Linked DNA regions of Homo sapiens. The protein of the gene in region 2 purifies or fractionates together with the protein of the main gene of each other region. This does not show direct contact. Each region holds a gene or a part of one and is shown on either strand. Other genes may lie near its edges.

Region 1 (3,651 bases), on a different chromosome or scaffold from region 2:
AAGAGGATTATGCTTGCCATATTAAAATGTCAAATTCATAATCCTAATTTTTTTATGGCTTCAAACTTGTAGGGCCTTCCTGGATCAATAAAACAGAGAGAGCTTTCTTCAGAGGTAGAGACAGCCGAGAGGAGAGGCTCCAGTTGGTACAGCTGTCCAAAGAAAATCCTCAGCTACTAGATGCAGGAATTACAGGATATTTCTTTTTCCAAGAGAAAGAAAAGGAGCTTGGAAAAGCCAAGTTGATGGGTTTCTTTGATTTCTTTAAGGTATGCATTTGAGTCTTCTTCTATGGATATGAAGCGATAAAATTGTATTAAAAGTCTACCAAAATAGGTGGGCTTCAGCAAATTTCACCTGGCTTGTGAACTGACACACATGTTCACACTTTCTTATTAGATATCAGGAATTACAAAACCCATTGTGGTTTCCTTCTTTCATTGTTAAGTTTACCAAATAGCTCAGAACTGTACTTAATTCTCAAAATATAGTACAAGGATTAACCTGGGATTTTGGTATATTTATGTCTCGTTTTTCTTTCTTTTTTTTTTTTGTATTTGCTTTCATAAACTGGGAATATAAATACCTTTTACATAAAGTGATCTCAAATGTCTTTTATAAATAGAAAAAGCATAAATTCCATATATGTAAAGTGGGAGTTGGGATTAGGGTTCAAGGCCTGCTTCTAATCCTGCCTCTGCCACCAACTATGGGACCTTCCTGTCTTGGTGCCTTGGTCTTTAAACCCGTGTGATGCCTGCCTACTCCTTCAGAGCATTATCACGAGGCCCAGAGGAGAGATGTGAACAATGTGACAAAACCTGATGGGCTCAAAAACTCCCTTGTACCAATTATTTAAGAAAAATTTATTTACCAAATCTGGGAGTGTGTCCTCTTCATCCCAGAGTGATACAATGAGTAGAACAGGGGATTTGGACTCAGAGAATGAGGTTTATACATTTCTCTGAATACCAGTTTTCTCATTTGTAAAAACAAAAAGAAGGGGTTAATAATACCTGCTTCAGATTATTCTAATTGAATGAGGTTTAATGCCTATGAAAACTACATTTGAAATGGAAAACAAAGTATATTAACCCAACAAATATGCAGACAGCTTACCTACTATGTTGCCAGCATTGCCCAAGTCCTTAAATGTCTCCAGGTTTCTATCTCCTCAGCTCTAAAACTGTAAAATAGAGACAATGCCTGCCTGTTTCATAGACTGCGTATAAGGAACAAATGAAATAATGAATAAATGAAAGTGTTCATTGTTATCAGTATTGAGCTTTAAGAATTTTGAAAATAGTTTTCCTGGCTGGGCGTAGTGGTTCACGCCTGTAATCCCAGCACTTTGGGAGGCTGAGGCGGGCGAATCACCTGAGGTCAGGAGTTTGAGGCCAGCCTGGCCAACATGGGGAAACCCTGTCTCTACTAAAAATAGGAAAAAGTTAGCTGGCTGCAGTGGTGGGTGCCTGTAATCCCAGCTACTCAGGAGGCTGAGGCACCAGAATTGTATGAACCCAGGAGGTGGAGGTTGCAGTGAGCCAAGATCACGCCGCTACACTCCAGCCTGGGTGACAGAGCAATACACTGTCTCAAAAAAATAATAATAATAATTAATTAAAACTTAAAAAGAAAATAGTTTTCCTACCTTGTTACAGAAATCTGGATTCCATTATTACAGAGACATGATTGAAATAGGTCTTCACTCCTATTTCCAAAAATTTAGCACCTTACCTTTAAACAATGTATTTCTTAAAATTAATCTGAGAAATGCTGCTTGTGATTTTTATACAAAGAGAAGATGTAAGTTATAAAATAAAACTTTTAAACACAAAAAAGTTGGAAAATGGAAAATAATTCCTCTGTAGTTGGTATTACAGTGTTGATGAGGAGCAGAAGTGAAGCAAATGACTACTGAAAGTTTGTTTATGTTTGTTTTTCATCTTCCAGTACAAGTATCAAGTAAATGTGGATGGGACCGTGGCTGCTTACAGATATCCATATCTCATGCTGGGCGACAGTCTGGTTTTAAAGCAGGACTCGCCATATTATGAACATTTCTACATGGCACTAGAACCTTGGAAGCATTATGTTCCAATTAAAAGAAATCTGAGTGATTTATTAGAGAAAGTTAAATGGGCTAAGGTATGCGTCCAGCAATTTTTATTTCTTTAAGCAATAACAAATTCATCAGTGTTAGATGAGTTCCATCACAATACAATTTGATTTGACATAATGGAATGAAAAGAAATATTATTTTCTGAAATTGCTGTTCCCTTGAAATATCTAAAGAATCAGCATCAGAATCATTTTGCATACCCTCTATCAACATTTTTGAAGATTTTCAGAAGATTTGAAGTCCAGCCTTATATAAAATACAGATTTTCTAAATGCTATGTTTACACATACAAACAAGAATATACAAAATGCAAATTACTGACTGAAAGACCAGAGTTAAGGTGCTTTATGAACAAGAAAATATTTCAGGCAATTACAGTACTCTTTTCTTATCCCCAGTTAGAAAAAAGGCACAAATTCTTAATGAATGCGTGTTATACAACGCAAGCATCACGTTTCCTATAAAATAGGAATTCCTTTTTTAAAAGGAAAAGTATTAAAAAGCTGTTGCGTTTTATTATAAAGCTATAAAAATGTACCCTTCCATTATGAGACTTTATACTAAGATTCTAAGAAACAATATATGGTTATAGAAATAATTGGGCGCCTGAGGCAGAATCACTTTTGTGACCCTTCATAAGAGCCTCAGTTGCTTGCAAATGGCTTACCTGCGGGCAGCATTGTAGAAGATTAACTGTTTTCCAAAAGTATAATTAGGAACGCTGACTATTTCTGGTACTGAATGAACAGCCTGTGGGTACTAATGACTGAATTTTTCGGTTACAAAAGCAATACAGTCTTTTATAGCTACCATTTTATAACACAACTTTTTGACGTTGACTGCGTATTTGCATGGAGCTTTTAAAAGATGTTGTAACGTGAAAACGGATTCATTCTCCTGTTATGCAGAGAGGAAATAGGCTGGTGGGACAGATGCGGAAGCTGAAGAGTACTTCCTGGGTGGCCAGGAAGGTACCAAGATGGTCACAATAGGGGCTGCATGTGGGTTGTTGCACTGTGGGGAGAAGGAGTGGCTTCCTAGTACTGTGGAAGAGGGGCCAAACATGTGATCGTTTCTCTTTAACGGAGATGTCTAGGAAAATACTCTGTCTCTTCCTGTAGCCTCATTCTTTCATTTATTTATTTATTAGTTTATTTATTTATTTATTTATTTATTTTTGAGACAGAGTTTCACTCTGTCGCCCAGGCTGGAATGCAGTGGCACGATCTCCACTCACTGCAACCTCTGCCTCCCGGGTTCAAGGAATTTCGTGCCTCAGCCTCCTGAGTAGCTGGGATTACAGGTACCCGCCACCACACCCAGCTAATTTTTGTATTTTTAGTAGAGATGGGGTTTCACCATGTTGGCCAGACTGATCTCGAACTCTTGACCTTAAGTGATCTTCTAGCTTTGGGCCCCCAAAGTACTGGGATTACAGGTGTGAGCCACCATGTCCGGCCCCTGTAGCCTCATTCTTAAGTTATAATTCCATTATGTTCTGGCTTTCCCATGCTGTTCACTTTCAACCC
Region 2 (3,651 bases):
TGGCACAAATAACCATCTTTCTCTCCTCACCCCCTCAAAAATCTTGTAGTGTTGAAAGTGAAGCCAGCTGGACTTCCTGGGTTGAGTGGGGACTTGGAGAAATTTTCTGTCTTACAAGAGGATTATAAAATGCACCAATCAGCACTCTGTAGCTAGGATTGTAAAACGCACCAATCAGCGCTCTGTAGCTAGCTAGAAGTTTGTAAAATGCACTAACCAGTGCTCTATAAAAACCCACCAATCAGCGCTCTGTAGCTAGAGGTTTGTAAAATGGACCAATCAGCAGGACACGGGCAGGGGACAAATAAGGGAATAAAAGCTGGCCACTCCAGTCAGCAGCTGCAACCCACTCAGGTCCTGTTCCATGCCATGGAAGGTTTGCTCTTTCACTCTTCACAATAAATCTTGCTGCTGCTCACTCTTCAGGTCCATGCCACCTTTAAGAGCTGTAACACTCACTGCGAAGGTCCGCGGCTTCATTGAAGTCAGCGAGACCAAGAACCCACTGGAAGGAACCAACTCTGGACACAGTGTCACATATTTTCTTCTTTTTTTTAAAAAAAAAAAAAAAGTCCTTTTTCAAAGGAATTAAAAGCAGTCTCCCAGACGACTGTCTCATCAATGGGTTATGACCATTCACAAAGGCAAGGTCTAAAGGACTTCCCTGAACTTCTCTTGATTTTCATTTTTTAGGTTTATGCTCACCTTAGAAAGCAGAGCAGTGATCAGAAAGGCAACTCAGCACAGAGCATTCCTTCCATGCTCACCTTAAGACCACAGCCTTCAAAACAGACCCAAGAATATAAGAAATATTCAAATATGTACAAGAGCATCAGTGATACATGGATCTGGCCCCACTGGAACTCAGATGGCCTATGGAGCTCCCTGAAATCTCTCTTGTAAATGAAATTATCAAGTACTGCCACTGGCAGCAGGGCTGACAGCTCCAAGAGACATTGGTAATAAAGAAAAATCATGATCTTTAACCCAATTCTGTAAACTGCACAGCCGACACCCACTGTGACAATTAATTACCCTTATTAGTAGCCATGGTTTATAGATAGAGAAAAATATGGTCAATCATCTTTCATGACTGAAAAACAGTATAGTTTAGAGAAATTTTGGTGTAAAGCCTAAACACAAGCCTAATGTGGCTAACTTTGAAATGTTACTTTGGCTATTTCCTCAAGGAACTAACCAAGTAGCAGGGCAATTTTCCTGACAGGCCATCTGAGTTCCCTTTCTGATCACTGCCCTGCTTTCTAAGGTGCCTACAAACCTAAAACATTTTGAGAAAGTTTGTGATATCTAAAAGAACAAGGTAATTATTGAGCAGGTATGTGAATGGCCTTATAAGCACATGAAAAGGTGCTCTACATTATTAGTCATCAGGGACACTCAAAACCACAAGAGATACCATTTTACTCTCAGTAGAATGGCTACATTTAAAAAGGCTAATAGCCGGGCATGGTAGCTCACGCCTGTAATCCCAGCACTTTGAGAGGCCGAGGCCAGCAGATCACCTGAGGTCGGGAGTTCGAGGCCAGCCTGACCAACATGGAGAAACCCGTCTCTACTAAAAATACAAAATTAGCTGGGCGTGGTGGCGCATGCCTGTAATCCCAGCTACTCGGGAGGCTAAGGCAGGAGAATCACTTGAACCTGGGAGGCGGAGGTGGGGGTAAGCCGAGATCGAGCCATTGCACTCCAGCCTGGGCGACAGAGCAAAACTCTGTCTCAAAAAAATGAAGACTAACAATACCAAATCTTTGTGAAGATATGGAGCAAGTGGAACTCTCCTACATTAATGGTGAAAATATAAAATGATATAGCCACTTTGCAGAACTATTTGGCAGTTTCTTATAAAGTTAAATATACTTGACTTATGTTCATATGAACATGACTTAGCAATTCCATTCCTACACATTTTGCCCAAGAGAAACGAAAATGTTTCCACAAAAAGACCTGTACACAAATGTTGACCTAAGCCTTGTTTGTAAGGCTCAAACATGAAAACAACCCAAATGTTCATTAATGGGAGAATGAATAAACAAACTGTGGTATAATTATACAACAGAATACTCCTTAGCAATAACTAAGTTATAACAGTTAATGAAATTAACTACTGATATATGCAAACACATGGAGTAATCCACAGAGTGCTGAGCAGAAAAAAATCTTTAAACTCCCACCACCAAAAAAATCTTCACTGATTCTGCAGAATTGTAACGGCTTCTCAAATAAACTCATTATATTCAAGATACAGAATTGATAGACTACAAAACTTCCCTGGTAAATTCTACTCAAGTCAAATTAATTAAACTTGATTTGCAAAGTCAAAAATTCTTTGTGAGTTTTGAGGGTTTAAGGCAAATAACGTTTTAATCTATAAGAATGTAACAAACAAACTCACCAATCCTTCCTTTTTTGTGAATATGGCCAGGCATGATGCCAATTTTACATTCTCCAGGCTGAAAGTAATCATAGTTTTCAGAAATGTTAAAAAAAAAAGTCACTCACAGGTCATACACACAAATACACTCGCATTCACTCAAAGCTGTTTAGCCTTGTGAGAGGCTTAATCTGAGTTTCTTTTTGTTTTTTTGCACTCACATTGATGACTCCAGGGCAGTTGGGCCCAATTAGCCTTGTCTTTTCCTGGCGCAGCAGTTTGTGCTTGACTCGTACCATGTCCTGCTGGGGAATTCCTTCAGTGATACACACAACCAAGGGAATTTCTGCCTCAATAGCTTCATTAATGGCAGCAGCAGCAAAAGGCGGAGGAACATAAATGACAGAAGCCGTTGCTCCTGTCTGTTCTTTGGCCTGAAACATTAACGACGAAGCACCTTATTATTTGTTAAATCATAAACATTGTAAAATAAATTCAATACCATCATTTTAATAATGTCTTGGGGTAAGAAAAGGACACTACCCAGAGACATAGCATTCTTCCCATTCTCAAATTTGCTACACTGTCAGAGTAGAACAGAATCAAGCATAGCCCTTTCTCAGCCCATTTGAATGCCACTGTGAATTGAAAGCTTCTGTGACATCTCACTCTCTATGGCATGTCAGTAAATCTGAAAGCAGCCTGACAGTGAACAGAGTCAAAGAATGCCAACATATCATCCACAAATGATGCCGGGGGTTAAAAATAATTTTTTAAAACTCTGTTCAAGATGATAACAGAGGGGGAGACACAAAAAACATTAAAACTAGTATGGAATCAAAAAAAGTCACATCATGGGGATGTAGGTACTTTAATGAAAAGTACCTACATTACATAGTTTTCTACCTCTAAAGTCTACAAATACTGCCAGAAGCTATACTGTGACAACAGCAAATATTGTGCTGGGACGTCATATGGATGAAAGGTACCAACCCTACTCATTCAAAAAGCCCTTTGTAAGAGCAGAACGGGTGAAAAATAAACAATATCTGTCAAAAAACTTATAGAATATTCCAAATGTCACAACTATTTGTGTCACTATAAATTATAAATGGATTGCTTAGCAAGAAGAACTTTCTTTAAAAAAAAAAAAAAAGCAAAAAGAGGCTCATGACAAAAGAAAAGTCAACCTAGAGGAATTGTAAAAAAACATCTCCTCTCTATATTTTGAGGTTATAAAATCAGCCATAATAGAATTT

The links. Proteins that work in one complex are often made in the same cells at the same time.
Region 1: the proteins of SUCLG1 (region 2) and POGLUT3 fractionate together in Homo sapiens (co-fractionation; one large-scale study listed by BioGRID). This does not show direct contact.

The regions. Positions count from the first base shown.
Region 1 is NC_000011.10:108,477,798-108,481,448, reverse strand, and holds part of POGLUT3 (protein O-glucosyltransferase 3 isoform 1 precursor), read left to right. Parts: intron 1-72; coding exon 73-269; exon of another isoform or gene 270-289; intron 290-1,119; exon of another isoform or gene 1,120-1,186; intron 1,187-1,953; coding exon 1,954-2,148; intron 2,149-2,789; exon of another isoform or gene 2,790-2,985; intron 2,986-3,651. UniProt on the Homo sapiens protein: Protein glucosyltransferase that catalyzes the transfer of glucose from UDP-glucose to a serine residue within the consensus sequence peptide C-X-N-T-X-G-S-F-X-C. Can also catalyze the transfer of xylose from UDP-xylose but less efficiently.
Region 2 is NC_000002.12:84,438,634-84,442,284, forward strand, and holds part of SUCLG1 (succinate--CoA ligase [ADP/GDP-forming] subunit alpha, mitochondrial precursor), read right to left. Parts: intron 2,827-3,651; coding exon 2,614-2,826; intron 2,472-2,613; coding exon 2,414-2,471; intron 1-2,413. UniProt on the Homo sapiens protein: Succinyl-CoA synthetase functions in the citric acid cycle (TCA), coupling the hydrolysis of succinyl-CoA to the synthesis of either ATP or GTP and thus represents the only step of substrate-level phosphorylation in the TCA.